Homo sapiens: one gene and its partners. The protein of the gene in region 1 interacts with the protein of each later gene in a biochemical or structural test. Each region holds a gene or a part of one and is shown in the gene's direction. Other genes may lie near its edges.

Region 1 (7,031 bases):
TTTCCTAAGGTAAAGCTGGTAAGAGGCAGAATTTGGATCTTGATTAGTGTAACATTCCCCTGTCTCTTGTTACTGTAAAATGACTAACTACAAATACAAGATGATTTTCTGGACTACTATTCACCCAGTTGCTATCTCATTTAGATTCCTGTATCTAATCCAGTAGCAAATTCTGTAGGTTCTGCTTTCAATATATGTACTAAATCAGACACTTTCCCCCCTGTCTTTCAAACCTCTGTTCACTTCCATCATTTACTGCCTGGCCTCCTGTATTAGCCTACTTTGGAGCAGCAGCTAGTGTTATCTTCTTAAAATATAGACCATGTTACTCCCCTGCTAAAAACTGTAGAGGTTCTCCATCACACTTACATTAGAATCTTGCCTTCCCCCCCACCCCTTAGCTATAAGGCCCTGCATTCATTTGGGATGCCTACTTCTGAGCGCATCTGCACTTCTCTCTCTGGGTCACTCCACTGTAGCCACACTGTTGCTTTGCTGTACCCTGAACAATAAGTGGTTGAGCTTATTCCAGTCACAGGACTTTCCTCCAGTTTGTTGCATTGCTTGCTTTGTCCAGTTGTTCCGTTCTTAGCTCATATGTCATACCCTCTACCTAACCTGTCCCGTATAAACCAGTTTCCCTTTTTCCTCCCCCACAATTTTATCCTCCTATCTCCCTTTCTTCTGTATAAGTGCTTATTACTGTTCGAAGTTATGTTATTTACTGTTTATTTCTCTCTATTCCCCATTAAACCTTCATGAAGTTAGGGACTCTTGGATATCCCGGGCATTGCTCATTCGTGCCTAGACCAATCCTTGGCACATAGTAGATACTGAAATATTAATAGACTAACTGAATAGATGAGCCTTAATCTCAATGAGCAATAATTTGACATTGTTACTCCTTGGTATATTCTGTCTGAACCAATGTCTGAGCTAAAAGTTAAAGCTAGTCTCGTTTTCCACCCATAAGCTCACTTAAAAAGGACATCAATCTTTTACATTATTTCTTTTTTGTGTGCCTACTCTGCTTATGTATCTTTTTTTATTAACTAGGAAATGCACACATAGAGCACATTTGAAAGGCTCTGAAGGATACGTAGAGAATCCCTCATCTGTCCTTCAGCATTCCAGTTCCCCTGCTTAGAAAACCACTGTTTTTGTTTGTTTGTTTGTTTGTTGAGACGGAGTCTCCCCCTGTTGCCCAGGCTGGAGTGCAGTGGTGCAATTTTGGCTCACTGCAAACTCCACCTCCCAGGTTCAAGTGATTCTCCTGCCTCAGTCTCTTAAGTAGCTGAGACTGCAGGCATGTGCCACCACACCTGGCTAATTTTTAGTAGAGATGGGGTTTCACCATGTTGGCCATGCTGGTCTCAAACTCCTCTTCTCAAGTGATCCACCTGCCTCAGCCTCCCAAAGTGCTAGGATTACAGGTGTGAGCCACTGCACCCGACTTCAACCACTATTTTTATTGTGTATCCTTACAAGAAGACCAGAGCAACTTTCTGCTATAAGTTAGGCGTCTTCTCCTTCTCATGCAAATACCTTGATTCCCTTCTCTTCCCCTCTAACCACCTATGTATCTTCAAGTTGACTTTTTTTTTTTTTTAAGAGACAGACTGCTGCTTTGTTGCCCAGGCTGGAGTGCAGTGGCTTTTCACAGGCGTGATCATAGTACACTATATACATACAGCCTCGAATTCCTAATATCAGGTGATCTCTACCTTCAGCCTCCAGTATCTGGGATTACAGACATGCATCATAGTGTTCTGCTTTGGCTCTTTTTTTTTTCTCAAAGGGCTGTTTAATGGAACCTTATGGTTAGACTTTATTTTATTTTTTCAAATATTGGAAATTTAATACTTTTTCAGTAGAGATGGGGTCTTGCCATGTTGCCTAGGCTGTTCTCGAGCTCCTAGGCTCAAGTGATTCTTCCACCTCGGCCTCCCAAAGTGCTAGGGTTAACAGGCATGAACCACCGTGCCTGGCCTAGACTTTATTGTAACTAATTGCTTATTCATAACTTTCAGAATGTTTCCTAAATTGTGCTATATAAAAAATGCTGTAACGAAGTTTTGTATGTATGGCATTTTGCACAAGTGTGAGTGATATTGAGTCTTAGTAGTTCTGTTTTAAGCTAGAATCTTTAGTTTCGTTTTTCTGCCTTATCTTCTGGACCAAAGCTCTTTTAGCCAATAAAAGTGACTGAAGCTGGGCATGGTGGTTCACACCTGTAATAACAGCTCTTTGGGAGACTGAGGCCCAAGGATTGCTTGAAGCCAGGAGTTGAGACCAGCCTGAGGAACATAGTGAGATCTCCATCTCCACCAAAAAAAAAAAAGTGAGCAGTTAAAGCTTAAAGTCATAAAGGTTAGGAGGTACCTAAAATGTCCCTCAAATGAGAGGTTCTGCATAATCCTGTCATAAAGGAGAATCACTTTCGGGAACCGATAAGTGAGATCTATAGTTATGGCCTTGGTCAAAACCAAATCTGTTTCAGCTTTACATGTTACGTTGATACAGTGACTGACATTCCTTTAATGGTCTTTTCAGAATTAATCATGAGGGCTGAGCACTGTGGCTCATGCCTATAATCTCAGTACTTTGGGAGGCTGAGGCGGGAGGATCCCCTGAGCCCAAGGTTTCAAGACTGGGCTGTACAACATAATGAGACCTTGTCTCTACAAAAAGATAAAATGAAAATTAGCCAGGTGTTGTGGCACACATCTGTAGTCCCAGCTACTCAGGAGACAGGTGGGAGGATTGGTTTGGCCCAGGAAGTTGAGGCTGCAGTGAGCCTAGATCGCGCCACTGCACTCCAGCCTGGGCGACAGAGTGAAACCCTGTCTCAAAATAGTAATAATGATAATAATGAAAATGATAAAATACAGTCTTGGGAAAAAGTAGTTAACTTACCCTAGGGGTTGACTTATTTGATTAAAACCTAGTGAGTCAACCTGCTGGAATTAGAATTTTACCAGTCTTTCGCAGAATTTACTTTATGTCTCCCTTCCCCACTGGTCCCTTGTCTATGGTGCTTAAAAATTTACTTAAGAAAATACATTTAATTAATTTTTTGAAACAGGGTCTCTGTCACCCAGGCTGAAGTGCAGTGGAAAAATTTACTCTTCTATTTGGTGTGATTTAGCCTCAAATTCTTAAAAATCAGATACAGTCTGATTTTACATTGAGACTTGAGTTTACTTTTTTAATAGGATTTTTTGAAGTACACACATTTTTTCCTGTTACTGTTTAAAAGCCACTCATTTGATAGGTATTCTAGTGCATAAGGTATTTTTTTTTGTAAGAAAAGTGATTTAGAAAACTCACCTTTTATTTATTTGAGACGGGAGTCTTGCTTTGTTGCCCAGCCTGGAGTGCAATGGCACAATCTCGGCTTACTACAACCTCTGCCTCCCAGGTTCAAGCAGTTCTCCTGCCTCAGCCACTGGAGTAGCTTTACTCTCTGCCTTGAACATTTTTTTTTTCTTATTTTGAGATGAAGTTTTGCTTTTGTTGCCCAGGCTGGAGTGCAATGGCGTGATCTCGGCTAACTGCAACCTCTGCCCCCTGGGTTCAAGCAATTCTCCTGCCTCAGCCTCCCTAGTAGCTGGGATTACAGGTGTATGCCACCACGCCCAGCTGATTTTTGTATTTTTAGTAGAGGCAGGGTTTCACCATGTTGGTCAGGCTGGTCTCGAACTCCTGACCTTTGGTGATCTGCCCACCTCGGCCTCCCAAAGTGCTGGAACTACAGGTGTGAGTCACCGCGCCTGTCCTATCTGTTGTTTTAAGCTCTGAAAATACTTGTCTGATAATGTTTTCTTCCAATTAAAAAAAGGCATGGAAAAGTTACCATGATGTTTCAGAAATATATGTACCTCCAGGTGGGGGCAGGGAAACTTAGCCAGGTATGGTGGTTCATGCAGTAATCCTAACAGAAGACTGAGGCAGGAAGATCCCTTGAATCCAGGAGGCCGGGGCTGCAGTGAGCTATTAGTGGCACCACTGCACCCCAGCCTGGGTAATAGAGGCAAGACCCTGTCTCTTAAATAAATAAATAAATAAATAAATAAATACAAACTCATTATGATGAAGACAGATTTGTTATAAGTTGTAATTAAAATCACCTTTGGAATTTAAGAAAAAACTTGTAAAAAATTTGACTAGGAACAGTGGTTCTTTAGTTCTTTCAGTTGTCTCACTTAAGAATTTTCTGACCTCTTCCTAGGAAAAAAAGCTATTTTTTTTAACGTATGACTTCTGGGGATTCAGATTCTTGCCAAGTTTATTTGTGGATTCCCTAGGTCTCCATGTGCTCCATGTTAAGAATCCTTGAACTGCTTTTGATAGTGATTAAACTTTCAGGCTCTAAAGATACTGTTTTAATATACTATCTAATGTTTTGATTATGAAATGTGAGCATAACTGAAAGTAAGTTAAAAATAGCAGTCAGTTCAGTATTCTTTTTTAAGCTCCTCTGTGTCAAGCAGTTCCTTTAGTCCAGATTGATCAACTCCTGCACAAGTGAAATTAAGTTTTGTCAAATTATCAAGTACTTTAGTATTCACTGTGCTAAATGACTGTGACTGGAAATGTTATGCATTTGCTTTGCTCAAGTTTGGAATTTTTTCCACACGTGTTAATGACCACTCTTAAAACCAGAGTTTTTTTTTGTTGAGACGGAGTCTCGCTCTGTCGCCAGGCTGGAGTGCAGTGGCACGAACTCGGCTAACTGCAATCTCCACCTCCCAGGTTCAAGCGATTCTCCTGCCTCAGCCTCCCGAGTAGCTGGAATTACAGGCACGCGCCACCACACCCAGCTAATTTTTTTTTATTTTTAGTAGAGACGGGTTTCACCATGTTGGCCAGGATGGTTTCAATCTCCTGACCTCGTGATCCACCCACCTCGGCCTCCTAAAGTGCTGGGACTACGGGAGTGAGCCACCAGAGTTTTACACATTAGAGAACATCTGTTCTATCCTTTTCTTTCTCTGGTGAGGAATTTGTAGGCCAAAGAAGTTGGATGACCAGATTCCTGATGTACAATTCGGTTCTTCTTCTTTTTTCCCTATACCTTATAGGATAGTTTACCTGTGTAAATGGATTTAAGAAGAAAATATGCTACAGATTCAAGTTGTATGGATTCTGAACACACATTATGTTTTCTGTTATAATGAACTATGGATGCATATGTGCTATAGAAATAAATACTAGAAACAAGGAAATGAGGACAGCAGCATCCAGCAGGGGCTTTTGACATTACAATTATAGTAATCAGAGTTCTGATTTAGGTGCCAAATTCGTATCTTATACAGTGCTGCTTTCTAAAAACAAAATAAATATGAGAGGCATAGTTTATGTAATAATATTATATCAAGGAAAAGAATTCTTATGTGTGTATGCGAAAAACGAGTTGGACTGTTGTTTCATTAGAGTTGAAATTTTCTTTGCAAATGTAATATATGAAGGAATGAATGTGGATATACCAATTAGGCAATTAAATAATAGGGAATCTTTTAACTTCAGCTAAAATCTTAGCAGCTTTTAAAATTTCTTCCCAAGTGAAGTGATTGATGGCCCTAGGGTCTTTTGTGGCAGAAACATGACTGTGTGGTTGGAAGAACTGGATAATTGGTTAAGAGCCCTCAGAATCAACAGAAATACTTCATTATTATTCATTCTTTCAAGGGCTACATGACACCATTGGGGGCATTTTATATTTTTTAAAAATCCTGGCCAGGCGCGGTGGCTCACGCCTGTAATCCCAGCACTTTGGGAGGCCGAGGCAGGAGGATCACAAGGTCAGGAGATCGAGACCATCCTGGCTAACATGGTGAAACCCCGTCTCTACTAAAAATACAAAAAAATTAGCTGGGCGTGGTGGTGGGTGCCTGTAGTCCCAGCTAGTCGGGAGGCTGAGGCAGGAGAATGGTGTGAACCCGGGAGCAGCAGAGCTTGCAGTGAGCGGAGATCACCCCACTGCACTCCAGCCTGGGCAACAGAGCAAGACTCCGTCTCAAAAAAAAAAAAAAACCTGAATGAAGCTATTCTAAAATTTCTTGAGTACTTAGGCACAGACATTTTTGGTTTTGAATTGGCCAGTAACTGAGATGCTTCTGAATAATTAGGATTCTACTGTAATTTAAAGTAATTTTAGATACTGGTTTCAGAATCTAAGGTTGACATATTTTGCATTAAAACAACTGGCTATGTTGTCTTTAGATTTTCAATTTTTTTTTTAGTTTTCAATACCTTCACATTATGTCTCTGTCAGTTTGGTTAATTTTGGGCAAATGAATTTATATTTTGAAAGTCTTTACAGTTCTAGGGATTGAAGGCATTGTAGTTAAGGAAACACTAGAAAGAACTAACAAATTTATATCATGAAACCATTGGTGATTTTTTTATTGCTCTGTAACTTTCTTAAGATTATAGCTTATACTCGGGAAAATGTTAGTAAGTAGCTGTTTTGTTTTGTTTTTTTTTTTTTGTGACTCTTAAAGACAACTAGATTACCATCTTACTATGAGGCAGGGACAAAGTGGTTTTAGTAACATAGGCCGATCCCAAGGCCAAATTTCAGTTTTCTGTAACCTTGTGATTTGCGTGTCTCTTTATTATCCATTCATGAGATTTTTTTTCAGTTCAATTAATTGGACATTCATTGAATGCATAATATGCATTTACCAGTAAGCCAGGTGAACAAGAAAGGCATCCCTGTGTAATGGAAAACACAGTCATGAAACAAATTTCTGTGGCCCAGGCTGGAATGCAGTGACGTGACTTGGCTCACTGCAACCTCTGCCTCCCGGGTTCAAGCAATTCTCCTGCCTCAGCCTCCTGAGTAGCTGGGATTACAGGTGCACGCCACCACACCCGGCTAATTTTGGTATTTTTAGTAGAGACAGGGTTTCACCATGTTGGTCAGGCTGGTCTCAAACTCCTGACCTCGTGATCCGCCCGCCTCAGCCTCCCAGAGTGCTGGGATTACAGGCAGGAGCCACCGCGCCCAGCCGAGGAAGTGTTTT
Region 2 (5,411 bases), on another chromosome or scaffold:
AGGCTGTACATCTGTTTAATAAATCAAAGAAGCACTAATTATTTAAATCATTTCATGGAGAGCCATATACGTTTGGAGAAAAACAAATTGTCAGTCACTTCTTTTCCTTCTAAACATGTCCCATCTGCAGAAACCAGGAGCCTCTTCCACAGGGATGAAAGCTATTTCTACTTTTAAGGGAACTTGGAAATCTCACATGAGTCTTCTGGGATGATTGCCTTGAGTCTTATCTTTGCTTTTTTGTCTTTCACACTGTCACCATCTCCATTCTCAGCACATTAGGAACCGGGGGAAATGTGATGAAGCTTTATAAGTGAGGAGAGACTCTTTCTTTCTTAATTGATGTTTTCTCTCTTCTTCCTAGGGTGTGGATGGCGTCATAAAAAGGTATGTGTGGGAGGACAGAGATGGTCCTTTTGTGCAGTGAGGAGAGATTTATAGCCATTAGAATTGTCCTGGGTTTAATTAGAATAAAACATCTCCCAGGGCAGAAAAATTTCGATATTGTTTTATCATAAATTTCTGGTCATAAATCAGCATTCGAATGTTCTATAACTATTAAGAATAGACCAGATTTGGCCAGGTGTGGTGGCTCAAGCCTATAATCCCAGCACTTTGGGACGCCGAGTCAGGAAGATCAGGAGTTTGAGACTAGCCTGGCCAACGTGGCAAAACCCTGTCTCTATCAAAAAAATACAAAAATTAGGGGGGCGTGGTGGCCCGTGCCTGTAATCCCAGCTATTCGGGAGGCTGAGGCAGGAGAATTGCTTGAATCCAGGAGGCAGAGGTTGCAGTGAGCCAAGACCATGCCACTGCACTCCAGTCTGGGCGACAAAGTGAGACTCTGTCTTAGAAAAATCAATAAAATTAAATAAAATTAAAAAAAAGAAAAGGAATAGACCAGATTCTATGGTAGAAAATTTGGGTGGTGGAGACTCGGAGTGTGGGTCAGTAGTGGTTTCAGGGAGAAGGTGTTGCAGTGTTGGACCCCTGCGCCATCACCATTTTATTACCTACATCTAGTTCTCTTTCTGTATTTAATAGGTTCTTGATTTATTTTGGATGGGCCATATCTTCTTTTTCTCTTATATACCCCTAATTGTCCATTGGGACAATTCCCACATGTTTATATTTTCCTCCTGGAAAAAGACCAGTTCCTCTTCATTTATATTTAGATTTCCAAAATCAGATGTTTATTTCCGGAATAATATTTCAAAATAATATTCTGGATAATATGTGGTCATGGTACAAAGAATTGATCCACCTCAGTTGCATTCTTTACAAGAGCATAAAAAGGTGCTATTCTTGTGTCTAAAATCGCACACCTCGCACACCTACGTGGTGGTATCAAGTTCTTTCTAACCACACGATATTCAGGCCAGTAATAGTTTAGTGCACATAATTTCTCATTTGCCAAGTGTTTGTAATTTTTCCCGGAAATCTGAAACCTTAGATGTTATCTGAGTACCTCCCTGCTGGGAATAGCTTTGAAGGTCTTAGGCCTCTCCAAACAGGATTCCTCTCTTGATATGTGTCAAACACCCAGGAGCCAGGTTCTGCAACCTCACTTTCTAACCATCTCCCTGGGAACTCAACATACATAGCGATGATGTTTCCACCCATTAAATGTTAGGGTTTCTTTTGTAAGGCACCAAAGTTTTGTTTTGTTTTGTTTTAAAATCCTTTTTTTTTTTTTTATGTCCTATGAGTTTAAGAATGTAGACAGGGAGAGGTTAATTATTTCATTTTAGAAGGAAGAAACTGTGCTTCTGAGAGGTTAAGATCTTCCCACGTTCTCACAGAAAGTAAGTGGGAAGGCAAACATGAGAACATTTTGTTTGCCTCCAGGGTCAAGAGTTTGCACTCTCCCTTCTCAGGATCCCCAAGAAGAGAGTTCAAGTGCCTCAATGGGTTGAAATGATAGGAAGTCAGGGGTGTTCCACGGACACAAGGTCAAAGGTTTGGAAGTTTTTTTTTTTTTTTTTAATTCTTAGGACGGAGAACGTGACCTTGAAGAAGCCAGAAACTTTTCCAAAAAATCAAAGGAGAGTGTTTCGAGCTCCTGATCTGAAAGGAATGCTAGAAGTGTTTAGAGGTGAGGAGAGCTAGATCAACAACAGGGTTATGGAATTCAAGTGGTGTTAGGGTGCTAAATAGGGAAGAGGGTGCAGTTTCCAAATATGGATAGAGGGGATAGGGGAGGATAGATATTGTCTGCTGCTGATGGGATTATATTTAATGGGAAATGGCTAGGTGGCTGTTTCATCTCATCATTCAGCAATTTACTGCCCTACCATAGGGCATACCTACTCTTTCCCTAATCTGGAGAGAAAATGAATTTCAGTGCTGACTCCTTTGTTTGTATTCAATATTGTGCATTTTTATCATTTCAGAGCTGACAGATGTCCGACGCTACTGGGGTAAGGAGAAGTCACATTATCATAAGCCACCCTGCGGCTTATCATTATTATTATCTTTATCTTTTAGAATTTTATGTTCTCTATTAGGCTCATGTTTTAAGATTTATGATTCTCCTTCCAAGACACACATAACTTACCCCTCCTTATAACTTCTAAACAAGGTTCCTCCCAGTTTTCTCTCAAGTCTTTATCAAGATTTCTCTCATATCACAAATAAAGTTACATTATATCCCTTAGCTGACCTGTTAATTTTTCTACAGTTGATGTGACAGTGGCTCCAAACAACATTTCATGTGCTGTCATTTCTGAAGATAAGAGACAAGTGAGCTCTCCGAAACCACAGATAATATATGGGGCACGAGGGACAAGATACCAGACATTTGTGAATTTCAATTATTGTACTGGCATCCTGGGCTCTCAAAGTATCACATCAGGGAAACATTACTGGGAGGTAGACGTGTCCAAGAAAACTGCTTGGATCCTGGGGGTATGTGCTGGCTTCCAACCTGATGCAATGTGTAATATTGAAAAAAATGAAAATTATCAACCTAAATACGGCTACTGGGTTATAGGGTTAGAGGAAGGAGTTAAATGTAGTGCTTTCCAGGATAGTTCCTTCCATACTCCTTCTGTTCCTTTCATTGTGCCCCTCTCTGTGATTATTTGTCCTGATCGTGTTGGAGTTTTCCTAGACTATGAGGCTTGCACTGTCTCATTCTTCAATATCACAAACCATGGATTTCTCATCTATAAGTTTTCTCACTGTTCTTTTTCTCAGCCTGTATTTCCATATTTAAATCCTAGAAAATGTGGAGTCCCCATGACTCTGTGCTCACCAAGCTCTTGAACCTTCTTACACACTCAGCCCCTTCTGTACAGCACCTCTTGTCCAGGTGCATCTCATACACCTGAACTCATTTGCATCATTTTAACCATCTTTTCCTTGCTGTCTCCCTTCTTTCTATTTGAACGTCCTTCACTCATCAGTAAAATGTAATAATTGCCTTGTGCCATATTGTCCCCAATATTTTATTGACATTTGATAGCAATTTTTTTCATCATTTTCCGTACTCCTAAGGAAAACTGACCTATACCTCATAAAATGAGACCGCTATTTAGGTATTACTTCTGCCAGATATTTATCACCCAATTGCCTCTGACACTGACTAAGAAGATGAAGAAAAGCTTTTCAACAGCCTTTCTATATCATCGTGTGATAATTGTTCACCAATGAATGAGTCCTTAGCCCTGTGTCAGTTTACCCTCGATGCCCTTATTTGTGAGTTAAAGAGAAAATATCATAAATGGTATACTCTTAAGTATAGAGGTTTTGTATCTAGAGGATCTCAGTTCAACTCCTGTCTCTCCATATACCAGCAGTGTAACTGTGAATAACATACTTAAATGGCTGTGCTTATTTCCTTTTCTTTTCTTTTTTCTTTTTTTTTTTTTTTGAGATGAAGTTTTGCTCTTGTTCCCCAGGCTGGAGTGCAATGGCACGATCTCGGTTCACTGCAACCTCCACCTCTCAGATTCAAGCAATTCTCCTGCCTCAGCCTCCCAAGTAGCTGGGATTACAGGTGCCCACCACCACCCCTGGCTAAATTTGTATTTTCAGTAGAGACGGGGTTTCCCCATGTTGGTTAGGCTCGTCTAGAACCTCTGACCTCAGGTGATCCACCCGCCTCGGCCTCCCAAAGTGCTGGGATTACAGGCGTGAGCCACGGCGCCCAGCCTGTGCTTATTTTCTTAAAATAATTTTTGTATTAAAAACTTCACATTAAATAAGTGCTAATGTTTTATTGCATAGTAGGGTGACTAGAGTTAACAATAACCTATTGCATATATTTTGAAATAGCTAGAAGAGAGGATTTTGAAAGTTCTCAACACAAAGAAATGACACATATTTGAGGTGATGGATATGCTAATTACCCTGGTTCGGTTATTACGCAATGTATACATGTATCAAAACATCACACTGTACCACATAAATATGTATATTTATTATTTGTCAATTAAAAGCAAAATAAAACAAAAAACCTTCATCTAATACTTTGGATCATTGTGAAAAAATAAATTCCTGAAGTATAAAGCATCTATCTAAGTGTCTTGATCTAATAAGTACTTGTTCTACAAATTATTGAAAAACATAAACTCTGTTAATGTCTCATGGAACAGGTTGTGCCTTCAGGGAAACTAGGATTGGATTTACTAAATTCTCATTTTTTAGATCTCAGATACTACTGTCAAAATGACTTCAATTCTGCCTTCTATATATAATACACACATATATTTAGGATTTTATTGTAATTCTAGTGTTGCTACATATTAGTCTTTATCAAACAAACTGAATTATGTGGGAATCAGTTTATTAATTGTAAAAAATAATTATAATAAAATTAGCTGATGTAGTTTTTTAAAAGTTAAACGAGTTTTTTGAATAGCTTCACTCATTTCTAGCATGTAAGGGGTAATCCATTATGGTGTTGGGCTTTTTTGTTTGTTTGTTTGTTTGTTTGTTTGTTTGTTTTGAGACAGGGTTTGTCTCTGTCACCCAAGCTGGAGTGCAATGGCACGATCTCGGCTCACTGCAACCTCCATCTCCAGGGTTCATCCTTCCACCTCAGCCTCCTGAGTAGCTGGGACTACAGTCACGCACCACCACGCCCTGGTTATTTTTTGTATTTTTGGTAGAGACAGGGTTTCACTATGTTGCCCAGGCGGATCCCGAAGCCCTGGGCTCAGGCGATCTGCCCACTTTACCTCCCAAAGTGCTAGGATTATAGGTGTGAGCCACCATGCCCGGCCTCATTATGGTGTCTATTAATTTTTGGTTCCCTCTCACTGTGACTGAAAGCAATAATTTTTAACAATATGTAATAGTTCTTTTCAAAATTATCTTTCTCCCTTCGTTTGAAGAAATACAAGAACTAAGTTAAAAATCACAGATTTTTCTTGTAGAAAGTTTTAAAATAAGTGTTTATAAATGGG
Region 3 (7,031 bases), on another chromosome or scaffold:
GTGTCTGGGTGTCAAACTACTGTGGCAATGCCATGTCCTTTTTTTTTTTCCTTTTTTTTTTTGAGATGGAGTCTCGCTCTGTTGCCCAGACTGGAGTGCAGTGGCGCAATCTCAGCTCACTGCAACCTCTGCCTCCCAGGTTAAAGCGATTCTCCTGCCTCAGCCTCCTGAGTAGCTAGGATTGCAGGCATGCACCAACAAGCCTAGCTAATTTTTGTATTTTTAGTAGAGACGAGGTTTCACCATGTTGGCCAGGCTGGTCTTGAACTCCTGACCTCGCGATCCTCCCGCCTCGGCCTCCCAAAGTGCTGGGATTACAGGCGTGAGCCACTGTGCCCGGCCATGTCCTTTTTTTAATATGTAGATAATTAATATTCAGCTGAATTTTCCTCCTAAGAATAAAGGTGCCTAAAGGAAGGAAATAGTCTTAACTAAACCAGAGGTCCATTAATACTGTGAAGTGCTTTTAAAATGATATGTGGGTGTATGTATTTTTCTTGGAGTGGGTTTATAGTTTCAGATTCTAAAGTGGGGTTTGGAGTGTGGTTTCATGTGAAACACCACTGGTTTTACATGAAGAGTTTGTTTGACATTTTGTACATAGTCTTCTGTGAGCTCCAAACCAAGTGTTAGAATGTTTATCCTTTGTTGCAGGCATCCTAATATTCTTAGACTGTATGGTTATTTCCATGATGCTACCAGAGTCTACCTAATTCTGGAATATGCACCACTTGGAACAGTTTATAGAGAACTTCAGAAACTTTCAAAGTTTGATGAGCAGAGAACTGCTACTGTAAGTGTTCATTTATTGTCCAGGCTAATTGTGTTTCCTTTATACCTGTCCTCCATAGCAATGTACCTTTCATCATAGTAGAGTGGGTTTTGTCTTGACGTAAGGATAGCTTAATATCAAATATTTGAAGTGGAAAAATCAAAATAGCTTAGTTGTACCATATGTACAGATAAAGTCTAGAACCAGGTAGAATGTTGTATCTGCTTTTGTGCCTAGTTTGCACAGCTGTTTTCTATGGAAATGTATATAATGTATATAGATAGTCACCCTCATTTTCTTTAATAGATGTTTTATTTTAGAATAATTTTTATTTTATTTTATTTTTTTTAAAGGGACAGGGTCTTGTTATGTTGCCCAGGCTGGACTCAAGTGATTCTCCACCTCAGCCTCCCGAGTAGCTGGGACTACAGGTGCACACCATTGTACCTGGCTAGGATAGTTTTAGATTTACAGAAATTGTGAAGGCAGTACAGAGAGTTCCCATATACCCCACACTGAATTTCCTACTAATTCTCCTACTAACATCTTGCATTAATATGGCACATTTGTCACATTCAATGAACCAATATTGATATATAACTATTAACTCAAGTCCACATTTTATTCAGATTTTCTTAGTTTTTCTCATGATTAAATTGGGCTTATGGGTTTTTGAGAGGGAGATCAGAGGTAAAGTGCATTCTTATCACATACCAGGGATGTAAACTCTTATGACTTTTAACTGTGGATGTCAGCTTGATCTTCTGACTCAGAGAGTGTTTGTCTGGTTTCTCCACTGTAAAGTTACTATTTTTTCCCCTTTCCGTGCTGTATTTCTTCAAAGGAAGTTACTATGAATAGCCCACACTTAAGGAGTAGAGAGTGGATGGAGTATTGCCATAAATTATCTGGAATTCTGTGCCAGAGATAAGGCTGTTCTCCCTTATTTATTTAATCATTTATTTATTTAAAGATGTAGACTCCTGGGTATTTATTTTATCTCTTGAGCTATAATGCAATACTTTATTTTGTGGTTCAGATCATTGCAACTTTGGCCACTGGGAACTTTTTTTCTTTCTTTTTTTTTTTTTTTCTTTTTGAGACGGAGTCTCACTCTGTCGCCCAGGCTGGAGTGCAGTGGCGCTATCTTGGCTCACTGCAACCTCAGCCTCCCAGGTTGAAGCGATTCTTCTGCCTCAGCCTCCCAAGTAGCTGGAAGTACAGGCACCCACCACCACACCTGGCTAATTTTTGTATTTTTAGTAGAGACGGGGTTTCACCATATTGGCCAGGCTGGTCTTGAACTCCTGACCTTGTGATCCACCCACCTCAGCCTCCCAAAGTGCTGGGATTACAGGCATGAGCCACCGTGCCCGGCCTGCTCTTTTTGTTTTACCAGGTTCCTGGGAAAATCATTGCAGTTTTGTCTTGCGTGTGTGTGGTTTTTTTTTGGTTTGTTTTTACACTTCCTTTTTTTTTTTTTCTTTTTTTGAGATGGAATCTCACTCTGTCGCCCAGGCTGGAGTGCAGTGGCATAATCTTGGCTCACTGCAGCCTTCACCTCCTGGGTTCAAGCGATTCTCCTGCCTCAGCCTCCTGAGTAGCTAGGATTAACAGGCATGCACCACCACACCCGGCTCATTTTTGTATTTTTAGTAGAGATGGGGTTTTGCCATGTTGGCCAGGCTGGTCTCTAACCCCTGACCTCAGGTAATCTGCCCGCCTCAGCCTCCCAAAGTGCTAGGATTACAGGTGTGAGCCACCACGCCTGGCCTTGTACTTCCTTACTTTCTGATACAAGATGCTCAGGCCTCATCGTGTATATTTCCTGCTCCAGTCCTAGAATCGAACCACTTCTCCAAGGAGCCCTGTTTCCTTTTCTTGGAGAATGTTATTAGAAACCAAGCTCTGGGCACTTGGTGTACTCATTGCTACTATGGTGTCACTACTTTTAGGCTTTCAGCTGACACAGCAAGGGAATATATGTGGATAGTAATCTGTGTATAGATTTATCCATCTATCTCTTCATTAAGCATACCATGAATTCATACTGATGTCTTCAACTTGAATCCATTACCACGTTTCATTCTAACTTCCTCCTGTTTACCTGTAAACTCCCACTCCAAAAGTGTGAAACCTGGATTTCACCGCCCACCATCCTTTTACTTATTCAATTCCAATATACATGTATAATGGTATCAGAATTGTTAACCAGCTGCCACGTGGGAACCAACTTTATCAATTAGAGTGCTTATGTGCACTTCCTTTGGCCTTTGTCTTATAGATTCCACTCATTTCCAAAGCTGCTTGGATCAACACTTTACCCTCATGCCCTTTAGTAAGGTGGTTTCCTACATTTGTAATGCAATGAGATTTTTTTGTCACAATCTGCATGCCCAGGATGGAATCATTTACATTTTCATATCCTGAGATTGATTTTTGTGTGTTTGCTGTAAAGTTCTATGAATTTCGACAAATACACAATGCCATGTATCCACCATTATGATATAGAGAATAGTTTCGCTGCTCTTAAGAAAAAAAAAATCCTGTGTCTCAACTACTCATCCCTTCCAACCCTTCCATCTCTGGCAACCACTGATCTGTTTACTGTCTCTATTGCCTTTTCCAGAATATCATGTAATTGGAATCATAACAGTATGTAGCTTTTTTAGGTGGGCTTCTTCCACTTAGCAATATGCATTGAAGATTCATCTGTGTATTTTTGGAGGCATGAGAGCTTGTTCATTTCTGTTTATCACAAAATCATATTCCATTATTTCATTATATGGAAGTACCTCAGTTTATTCGTCTACTGAAGGGTATCTTGGCTGCTTCTGGTTTTTGGCAGTTATCATGTTTTGGCTGTCAACATTTGCATGCAGGTTTTTGCGAAACAAGTCTTCAAATTAGTTGGGCACATATATAGGAGTGCTATTGCCAGCTCATACGGTAAGACTATATTTTGCTTTGTGAGGAACTGTCAGTCTTCCAAAGTGATTTTTACATTATATTTTACATTGCATTACAAATGTAGGAAATCACCTTACTAAAGGGCATGAGGGTAAAGTGTTGATCCAAGCAGCTTTGGAGATGAGTGGAGTCTATAAGACAAAGGCCAAAGGAAGTGCACATAAGCACTCTAATTGATAAAGTTGGTTTCCGTGGGGCAGCTGGTTAACAATTCTGATACCATTATACAACGGTAATGTGGTATCGGAACCAATGAATTGAGGTCCTCTTGCTTCTCATAGTTGCCAACATTTGATGTCAGTGTTTTGGATTTTTGTTTGTTTGTTTTGAGACAAGGTCTCACTGTCGCCCAGACTGGAGTGCAATGGCATGATCACCCACCTCAAACTCCCTGGCTCAAGCAATCCTCCCATCTCAGCCTCCCAAGTAGCTAGGACTACAGGCATGTGCTCTCGTGCCTGGCTAATTTTTGTATTTTTTTGTAGAGACAAGGTTTTGCCTTGTTGCCCAGGTCGGTTTCGAAATCCTGGTCTCAAGTAATTCATGCCTCCCAAAATATTGGGATTACAGGAGTGAGCCACTATACCTGGCCTCTTGTTTTGCATTTTAGTTATTCTAATCGGCATGTGGTGGTATCTCATTGTTTTGATTTCTAGTTTCCTAATGACATTTGATGTTGAACGTCTCTTTTTTTTTTTGAGACGGAGTCTCGCTCTGTCACCAGGCTAGAGTGTAGTGGTGCGATTTTGGCTCACTGCAACCTCCGCCTCTTGGGTTCAAGCGATTCTCCTGCCTCAGACTCCTGAGTAGCTGGGACTACAGGCACGTGCCACCATGCCCAGCTAATTTTTGTACTTTTAGTAGAGATGGGGTTTCGCCATGTTGGCCAGGATGGTCTTGATCTCTTGACCTTGTGATCCACCTGCCTCGGCCTCCCAAAGTGCTGGGATTATAGGCGTGAGCCACTGCGCCCGGCCTTGAACATCTTTTTATGTGTTTATTTGCCATCTGTGTATCGTCTTTGAGGCACCTGTTGAAATCTTTTGCTCTTTTTTTTTTTGAGTTTTGAGTTTTAAGAGTTCTTTGTATATTTTGGATGCAGGTCATCTGTCACACATGTTTTGCAAATATTTTCTCCCAATCCGTGCCTTGTATTTTTGTTCTCTTATCTGTGTCTTTCACAAGGCTGTTTTTTATTTATTTTTTTGAGAAAGGGTTTCACTCTGTCAGCCAGGCTGGGGTGCAGTGGTGCGATCTCTGCTCACTGCAGCCTCTGCCTGTTGAGCTCAAGTGATCCTCCTGAGTAGGTGAGACTACAGGTGGGTACCACCACGCCCAGCTAATTTTTGTATTTTTTGTATAGACACGGTCTCATCATGTTGCCCAGGTTGTTTTTTTTGAGGCATTCTTGCTTTGTCACCCAGGCTGGAGGGCAGTGACGTGATCTTGGTTCTCAGCTCACTGCAACTTCTACCTCCTGTGTTCAAGCAGTTCTCCTGCCTCAGCCTCCTGAGTAGCTGGGATTACAGGCATGAGCCACCACGCCCAGCTAATTTTTGTATTTTTAGTAGAGACAGGGTTTCATCATGTTGGCCAGTCTGGTCTTGAACTCCTGACCTCAGGTGATTTGCCCACCTCGGCCTCCCAGAGTGTTGGGATTGCAGGCATGAGCCACTGTACCCGGCCTCCCAGGCTGTATTTTTAATAAAAGTCCAAATGTGTCAGTTTTTTCTTTCATGATTGTGCTTTTTTGCTTCTCCTTTTTTATGTGATTAAAATTACTTGTTTTAAGAAGTTGAAGAGTCTTAGTTTGGGCCGTTTCTTATTGGATTGGCAGCTTGATAAAGCATGTTGAATGGTGGTTACTTTGATTTTTTTCTGTTTCTTGGTGGAGATCTCCGGGTAGTGTGGACATTAGTTCTCTTTTTGGCATTGATGTAAATGGCATTTAAATTCAAGTAATTTTACTTTCAGTATCTGATGAAATCATGCTACTATGGACAAATGGCTCTTTGGTCTTGTCTCTGCAACAATGACATGCTGTTTTAAAGACTTAATCTTAAATGTTTGTGCTTCTCCTAAGTAGAAATAGATCTCTAATTTGCTTTTTTAAATATTAGCTAAACAAATCAGCTTCTTATTTAATTGGCAATTAATATTTCTTTGAGTTCATCTTTTGGGCCAACTTTCTCTTACAGATCAATAAGTAAATCTATGCTCATTAATGGTAGTGACTCTACCTCAGGTACTCACATTTTACCCTTGGTTTTTTTCCTGGTAATCTTGCTTATGGTGGGTTGTAGTTTGTTGTTTCAGGTCAGTTAATCTTTTTCTTCAGTTTCTGATATTGATATCCTACTTTAAAAGATTCACCTTATACCAACACTACAAAATTACACATTATACTACTTCTCTGTTTTCTCTCCTTACACCCAAGGCTTCAATCTAGATGGAGTTTTGGTGTAAGCAGATAGCTGTTTGAAAGAAAATGAAAGATCATTTCTGTCTAGATTCCTTAGCAGTTAGAATGAATACACATGTACCTGTTTTCCTTTTCAGATGAATTCAAATAAAACTAATTGTAGTGACATGTCAGTGACCTATCCATATCTGCAATCTAACAACATGTGAGGTGTGGAGGAAGTGGCAGTGCCAGAGGGCTATCATGAAACTAATAGCTTCTTGTCTGGAAGTGATTTGAGGAGTGAAATCCATTGCCCTCTCAAACTTTAATGTGTGCAATTAAAGCATCAGCAACTCAAAGTTGGTGGTCAGAAGAGCAGCTTTCTTTGTATTTGCCTTCAGTTTATTGTGGTCTGAATTTTGATCTCCGGTTTTGGGCTGAAAGAATGAAAAGTGTTTATTCTGACAGTGACATTTGGTTTTTACTCATCTGTTTAGTAAACCTTTTTGATGTAAAATAATGTTCAATCCTGTCTAGAAATTGCTGTAGAAAGCAAACTCTTCTCAAACTTTAGGCAGAGCTAAATATATTTTTTCAATATTCAAACAGTTATCTGTATGTTAAAATAAATTCTGGGCCAGGCATGGTAGCTCACGCTTGTAATCTCAGCACTTGGAGAGGCCAAGGTGGGAGGATCACTTGAGGTCAGGAATTAGCGACCAGCGTAGGCAACATGGGGAGACTGTCTCTACAAAAAAAAAAAAAAAAAAAAGAAAGATTAAAAATTAGCTGGGCATGGTGGCACACACCTGTAGTCCCAGCTACTCGGAAGGAGGCTGAGGTGGGAGGATTGCTTACGGCCAGGAGTTCAAGGCTGCAGTGAGG
Region 4 (7,293 bases), on another chromosome or scaffold:
CTTCAAAAAGAAATCCATTCAATTACCAAAAAATGTGATTTAAAAAAACAAGGCCAGGTGTGGTGGCTCATGGCTGTAATCCCAGCACTTTGAGAGGCCAAGGCGGGTGGATCGCTTGAGGCCAGGAGTTCAAGACCAGCCTGGCCAACATAGTGAAACCTCATCTCTACAAAAAAGAAAAAAAAAAATTAGCTAGGCATGGTGGCACATACCTGTAATCCCAGCTACTCAGGAGGCTGAGGCGTGAGAATTGTTTGAACCCGGAGGCAGAGGTTGCAGTGAGCTGAGATCATACCACTGCACTCCAGCCTGGGTGACAGAGTGAGACTCTGTCTCTAAATAAGTAAATGCATAAAACAGAAAGACACCACTTTGTAACCACACAATTAAAAAATAATAAATAACAAATAAATACATAACAGAAAGAGGCTAGGTGCAGTGGCTCAAGCCTGTAATCCCAGCCACTCTGGGAGGCTGAGGCAGGTGGATCATCTGAGGTCAGGAGTTCAAGACCAGCCTGGCCAACATGGTGAAACCCCGTCTCTACTAAAAATACAAAAATTAGCTGGTTATGATGCCACGTGCCTGTTATCCGAGCTACTAGGGAGGCTGAGGCAGGAGAATCACTTGAACCCATGAGGTAGAGGTTGCAGTGAGCCAAGTTCATGCCAATGCACTCCAGCCTGGGCGACAGAGCAAGACTTGTCTCAAAAAATAATTAGTGGCCAGGCACAGTGGCTCATGCCTGTAATCCCAGCACTTTGGGAGGCCAAGGCGGATGAATCACGAGGTCAGGAATTTGATACAAGCCTGACCAAACATGGTGAAACCCCATCTCTACTAAAAATACAAAAATTAGCCGGGTGTGGTGGCGCGCGCCTGTAATCCCAACTACTCAGGAGGCTGAGGCTGGAGAATCGCTTGAACCCGGGAGGCGGAGGTTGCAGTGAAGATTGCACCACTGCACTCCAGCCTGGGTGAGAACAGATCAAGACACCGTCTTAAAAAAAAAAAAAATTTAGCGTGGCATGGTGGCGCATGCCTGTAATCCCAGCTACTTGGGAGGCTGAGGCAGAAGAATCACTTGAACCTGGGAGGTGGAGGTAGGGGTTGCAGTGAGCCGAGATCATGCCACTGTGCCCCAGCTTGGGTAACAGAGCAAGACTCCGTCTCAAAAAAAAAAAAAAGGAAAAAAAGAAAAAATAGAAAGAGACCTATTATTAGTCATTTTCCATTCTCCCCTCCCCCCAGGCCATGGCAACCACTAATCAATCTGTCTCAATGGATTTGCCTATTCTGGACATTTCATATAAGTGAAATCATACAATACATAGTCTTTTATGGCTGGCTTCTTTTAGTTAATATGCTTTTACAAGATTCATCCATGTTGTAATATGAATCAGTACTTTATTCCTTTTCATGGCTGAATAATATTTCATTGTATAGATACACCACATTTGGTTTACCTCTTCATCAGTTGATGAGCATTTGGGTTGTTTCCACTTTTTAGCTCTTTTGAATAATGCTGCTATGAACATTTACGTACACATTTTTCTGCAGACATATGTTTTGCTTTCTCTTGGAACTCTACCTAGGTAGGAGCAGAATTGCTGGGTCATGTAACTCCACATTTAATCTTTTTGAGGAACTGTCAGGCTGTTTTCCAAAGCAGCTGCACCATTTTACATTTCCACCAGCAAGGTACAAGGGTTCCAATTTCTCCACCTCTCATCAATACTTACTATTGCCCTTCTCTTTGATCATAGCCATTCAAGTGGGTGGGAAGTGTTTCTTCTGATGTTCTATGAGAACAGGGACTCCATCTGTCTGGTTCTGGTTCAGTACTGTATCCCAGAACCTACTACAGTGCCTGGAATTTATTACATACTAAATATTGTGTTAAATACACTAAAAAACTGTTCAGTGAATGGATAAATCAAAAGCTGTTTGGATAGTTACAATGGGTATCATGTATTTATCTCTCTAATAGGGATCTTCCACGGGGTCTAATACCTTTTTTTTTTTTAGTATAGTACTGAACCACTCTTCTGATACCATAGTCTTTCTTCTAGGAGGAAATGGGATTAAATTTAAGCTTTCTTGTTTTTCCTCTTTAGGTATACACATACTCATATAGGCACCTACAGATAATTTATTAGATGTTGGCACATTTTGTTTCTTCCTATTTTTACTTCTCTTGCAAAAATTCTTACTTCTACAGGGCTGTTTGCTCACCTCCAGGTATTTCATGCTTGCAAATAGGTTTCCTCCTGTTTCCAGGCTGGCCACAATGGAACAATCAATACCTGTGACGGGCTAGCCTTGCTCTTTTTGGTTTTCTTTTAATATTTCTGAACATCCTGTTTTGGTCCCCCAGTTTAGAAGTATCTGGGGTCATTTAATAGGTGGAAGTCAGCTAAGCCAGGGACTGTGTGATACTCACAGCCAGCACCTAGCACTTGATAAATAGTTGTTCAGCAGTCACAGTGGCTCATGATGTAATCCCAGCACTTTGTGAAGCCGAAGTGGGAGGACTGCTTGAGGCCAGGAGTACCGGCCTGGACAACATGGGGAAACTCCCATCTCTACTATATATGTATGTATATACACATATATATATATCATATGTATATTTTGAGACAGTCTCGTTCTGTTGCCCAGTCTGGAGTGCAGTGACGCGATCTCAGCCCATTGCAACCTCTGTCTCGCGGGTTCAAGCCATTCTCCTGCCTCAGCTACCCAAGTAGCTGGGATCACAGGCGTGAGCTACCACACCTGGCTAATTTATTTATTTTTTATTTTCATTTTTTTTTAGTAGAAATGAGGTTTCACCATGTTGGTCAGGCTGGTTGCAAACTCCTAACCTCAGGTGATCCCCTGCCCCATCTCCCCCCACCCCCCCACCCCCAGCCTCCCACAGTGCTGGAATTACAAGCATGAGCCACCGTGCCCGGCCTGATTTTGAAATTTTTAACAGACTTTTACTCGGGAGGCTGAGGCAGAAGAATCACTTGAACCTGGAAGGCGGAGGTTGTCCAGCCTGGGAGGAGCAAGGCTCCGTCTCAAAAAAAAAAAAAAAGAAAAGAAAAAAAAGAAAAAGAAAAACAGGGCGGGCGCGGTGGCTCATGCCTGTAATCCTAACACTTTGGGAGGCCAAGGCAGGTGGATTACCTGAGGTCAGGAGTTCAAGACCAGCCTGGCCAATACGGTGAAACCCCGCCTCTACTAAAAATACAAAAAATTAGCCAGGTGCAGTGTGGCATGTGCCTGTAATCCCAGCTACTCGGGAGGCTGAGGCAGGAGAATCACTTGAATCCGGGAGGCGGAGGTTGCGGTGAGCCGAGGTTACGCCACACCACTCCAGCCTGGGTGACAGGGCGAGATTACGTCTCAAAAACAAAAACAAAACAAAACAAAAAAAACAGTTGTTCAATAAATGAATGTGAATATAGGAGAAAGACGGCTTGAGGTAGCAAAGGAACACTCCCTTGCAAATGATTCAGGCTTGGTCAACAATACACCTATTGAGTACCCACCGTGTCCTTGGCCCGTGGTGAGGGCCGAAACACAGCACATGGTAAACAAAACAGGGCTCCAGCCTTGGACAGAAGGTTTCTATAATCACTTCTAGCTGCGTTGTTCTATTTCCATACCCATATCTATTCACTTTTTATGGTACATCTATTGATTCTGAAAATTACATTTTAGCTAAGGAATCTACTCATTTGCTTAAGCCCAAAATAGGAAGTTATGATCTAGTGTCAGCAAAACGCCGGATTCACAAGTGTCCCCATGGCGCTGTTTACCCCCAAATAACTAAACCCCGCCAAATGTTGAGATTCCGGACGTGAGGGGTGCTTGGATGGGGAACCCCCGAAAGAATGGACATCACGTCCACCAGAGGGTGCTGTGGGGGCAAATTTGTGCCAGGAGGGGAGCTCGACCGGTGACCCTCAGAGCCAGGTAGGCGTAAGGAGTAAATCTCCTTCTTCCCGGTGTTTCCTTCCCACCCCCTCGAACCATTGCTGCCCCTCCCCCATACTTGGTTCCCCCTGAATAATTTGCCACTTTCGGGGACTTAAGAAGTGTTTGCTTTTGAAAGACATCTGGTTTCTGTGGCTAACGCCCAGTGGTCAGGCCGCCCAGGTCACAGGCCGGCCGGGGGCGGGCGGTGGGTGGGGACTGCTGGGGCGTCAGCGGCCCAGGCGCCGCAGGGACCGCGAAAGGGTTAACCCGGCGGGGGGAGGGGGAGGGGGCGCGGGCCGCGCCTGCGCTCTGCCGCCCTCCATTGTCTCCACGGCGGCGAGGAGCGCCGGCGAGCGCAGCCCGGGACCGAGCGGGGCGGCGCGGCTGGCGGGGCCGGCGGCGGCTGAAGCGAGAGCGCGACGCGACGCGACCGCGGCTTCCCGAGCTGCGCCTGGCCGCCCAGCGCCGCGGCCCGCCCGAGGCCTGGAGGGGTCCGGGCCGCCGTCCATGGTCGCGGCGTCCTGAGGCGGGGGACGCGCCCGGCGCCCCCGGCCCTCCTCCGCCTCCTCCCGCGGGGCGGGCGGCCTCCTCCGGCGCCTCCCCGCGCCCGCCCGCCGCTCGCCGCCGCCTCCCTCCCTCCTTCCCTGCGGCTCCCCCGGCTTTCGGAGCCCGGGGGCGGCCTGTGGCGCGCGGAGCCCGCGCCGGACTGCGCCTCTTTGGACCTTGAGGGGAAACATGCGTTTGCCTTGGATCGTTTGAAATTCTGAGTTTGGGATCCCCGCCCGCCCGCCTGCCTCTTCCGCCCCGCGGGTTTTTTCCTTTTTTCCTTTTGCTTTTTTTCCTTTTCTCCCTCCGGGTCTCCTTTTTGACTCCCTCCCCCTTTATGCTCGCCCAGCCCTCCCCCTGCTGCTGAGAAGTGGGGGAGGGTCTCGGCCTCCAGGTTCCCGCCCCACCGGGGCCCGGGCGAGCATGGGGGGCAAGCAGAGCACGGCGGCCCGCTCCCGGGGCCCCTTCCCGGGGGTCTCCACCGATGACAGCGCCGTGCCGCCGCCGGGAGGGGCGCCCCATTTCGGGCACTACCGGACGGGCGGCGGGGCCATGGGGCTGCGCAGCCGCTCGGTCAGCTCGGTGGCAGGCATGGGCATGGACCCCAGCACGGCCGGGGGGGTGCCCTTTGGCCTCTACACCCCCGCCTCCCGGGGCACCGGCGACTCCGAGAGGGCGCCCGGCGGCGGAGGGTCTGCGTCCGACTCCACCTATGCCCATGGCAATGGTTACCAGGAGACGGGCGGCGGTCACCATAGAGACGGGATGCTGTACCTGGGCTCCCGAGCCTCGCTGGCGGATGCTCTACCTCTGCACATCGCACCCAGGTGGTTCAGCTCGCATAGTGGTGAGTCCGCGGGTGGTGGAGGCCTCGGAGGGAGGGCGCGCCGGGGCGCCCCAAGCCTTCGCGTGCGTGCCAAGGTTTGGGAATGTAGTGCACGACCGGGATCTGTCTGCATTCCCTTTGGTTCCCGATGCCAAGGGATAAATGGGATACCTACCGTCTGGAAACTAGGCTTTCTGCGAGGCTGCGGAGCCTGGCGATTTAGGGACTCACGGCGTGTGTTCACTTGTGGAAGGGCAGAGCGAAGCCTACCTATTGGAGTTCCATTTATTGGCATCACCCTCCTCAGAGAAGAGGTCGTGTCTGGCTGAGAGCAAGTCAGCCTGGGTACTTCCATTCTGCCACTGCAGCACTGTGCCTGCCTCACCGGTAACGGAGAGATGGAGCCAGTTGGAGCAAGCAGTGTCTCCTAAACAGAGTGTGTGAAAATGAAATAAAATCAGGGGCAAGTGATGCCTGGATTAGGGCTCTCACTCTTGCTGGGAGAGAGAGGTGCCCAGTTTTGCCACCCTGCTGGAGATCTGTTTGAAATGTTTAAAATGGAGCAGCCGGCAGGCGGCTGGCATAGACAGGTGTGGCTGCTGTACGGAGGGCCCAGCCGGCGAGTCTCGCGGGGGCTTTGCAGGACCCGGGCTGTGGTCACCCGTACTGCATGCAGCAGGCTTGGCTCCGCGACTCTCGCCTCCCTCCATCTTTTTTTCTTCTGCTCCATGCTAAGTGCTTGGTCTTCCCGTGAATCTGCATCTTTTTGTAACAGGGAGCCTGTCACGGTGGGGCATTATTGCCTGGCTGTTGGCACATGACTGGGGAAAAGGAGGATTCAGAGAATCTGGATGAATTCATTTTATGAACTTCTGGTGACAGGCCAGCAAAAGGTTGGAGGGGGATTTCCCAGGCTCCTAGCGGGAGGGCAAAAAAGGCCTGGCAGGAGGAAAACAGGTCTGTCTGCTAGGTCAGGCATCTAGAAAATTGGCCAAAAGGGATGTGGGGGCCGCTATTTGCTAATTGGCAAGTTGAGTGATGAAGTTACATCTTAAGATTCTTTTGGGTGAGTTGGGAAAATTTAGATAGTGTAGGGGAAAGATTGCTCCTGCCTTTAGGGTACTTTATGGAGGGTAATATCTGTTGGATCACTCTTTTAACTACTGTGAAATAGGGTTGACTTTTGGGGTATCTCTTTCCCCCCCCCTGCAAATAGCCTGGGGTTTGTTTTCATTTGGTTTGGTTTTTTGTCAATTCTGTAAACTTTAATTTGTGAAATAGTGTTGGGGGAGAAACGATTAGTGACTAATTTAGGGTAACACTTAGAAGTAGCTTGTGAATTGTTAGGATGATATTTTAATCTCTGACAGACCTCCGGATATCATTGGAGCTTTTCTGACCTCATGGAACTCTGCCCTGAGTGAGAAGCAGGACATGATTGCCTTTGGCTCTTTCAGGCATTTGATCAAAATTAGGCATTTTGAAATTAATAATTTTTCCTATGGAATTTAGTCCAGAGAGTTAGCCATATTTTTGAGATGACTAGTTTGGTGTTTAAAAGAACTGTAATGAGCATCTGGTTTTGAACTTAAAAGTACTGTAAGAAGTTTCTCTAAAATCACAGAATTTTTTGTGTTGAAAAACATATGAGATATGTAGGGAGGAAGAAAGGGAGTGCTTTTTTTGCTAAAATTTCTTAAGCCTCTTACTAAAAATTTATTTATTATGCTACTACCAGGTTCCATGCTACAGTTATGAGCTTGTAGTTGGATTCCAGAATTTCACTCTTAAGCTGTGAAACCTTATTTTTTTTCATCCGATCATGGTGAGGGTAGGGAGAGCCACTGAACTGTGGGGACAGGAAGGTTGGAGCATATTAATCCTTTAGGGAAGGGTGTCAAAAGTGTGTATGGGAGGCTGCTATTAATATTGTAGGTAATCCATTCCTTACTGTG

The links.
Region 2: the proteins of UBE2N (region 1) and TRIM5 form a complex in vitro, tested with the Homo sapiens proteins (2 studies listed by BioGRID, with this or other methods).
Region 3: the proteins of UBE2N (region 1) and AURKA form a complex in vitro, tested with the Homo sapiens proteins (3 studies listed by BioGRID, with this or other methods).
Region 4: the proteins of UBE2N (region 1) and ZNRF1 form a complex in vitro, tested with the Homo sapiens proteins (3 studies listed by BioGRID, with this or other methods).

Annotation. Positions count from the first base shown.
Region 1 is NC_000012.12:93,431,939-93,438,969, reverse strand, and holds part of UBE2N (ubiquitin-conjugating enzyme E2 N), read left to right. Parts: intron 1-7,031. UniProt on the Homo sapiens protein: The UBE2V1-UBE2N and UBE2V2-UBE2N heterodimers catalyze the synthesis of non-canonical 'Lys-63'-linked polyubiquitin chains. This type of polyubiquitination does not lead to protein degradation by the proteasome.
Region 2 is NC_000011.10:5,662,665-5,668,075, reverse strand, and holds the end of TRIM5 (tripartite motif-containing protein 5), read left to right. Parts: coding exon of another isoform or gene 1-177; exon of another isoform or gene 178-358; intron 359-364; coding exon 365-387; intron 388-1,994; coding exon 1,995-2,095; intron 2,096-2,393; coding exon 2,394-2,420; coding exon of another isoform or gene 2,421-2,569; exon of another isoform or gene 2,570-2,680; coding exon 2,681-3,267; 3' UTR 3,268-3,902; coding exon of another isoform or gene 3,903-4,041; 3' UTR 4,042-4,881; downstream 4,882-5,411.
Region 3 is NC_000020.11:56,375,195-56,382,225, reverse strand, and holds part of AURKA (aurora kinase A), read left to right. Parts: intron 1-654; coding exon 655-793; intron 794-7,031. UniProt on the Homo sapiens protein: Mitotic serine/threonine kinase that contributes to the regulation of cell cycle progression.
Region 4 is NC_000016.10:74,994,737-75,002,029, forward strand, and holds the start of ZNRF1 (E3 ubiquitin-protein ligase ZNRF1), read left to right. Parts: upstream 1-4,287; 5' UTR 4,288-4,935; coding exon 4,936-5,359; intron 5,360-7,293. UniProt on the Homo sapiens protein: E3 ubiquitin-protein ligase that plays a role in different processes including cell differentiation, receptor recycling or regulation of inflammation. Mediates the ubiquitination of AKT1 and GLUL, thereby playing a role in neuron cells differentiation.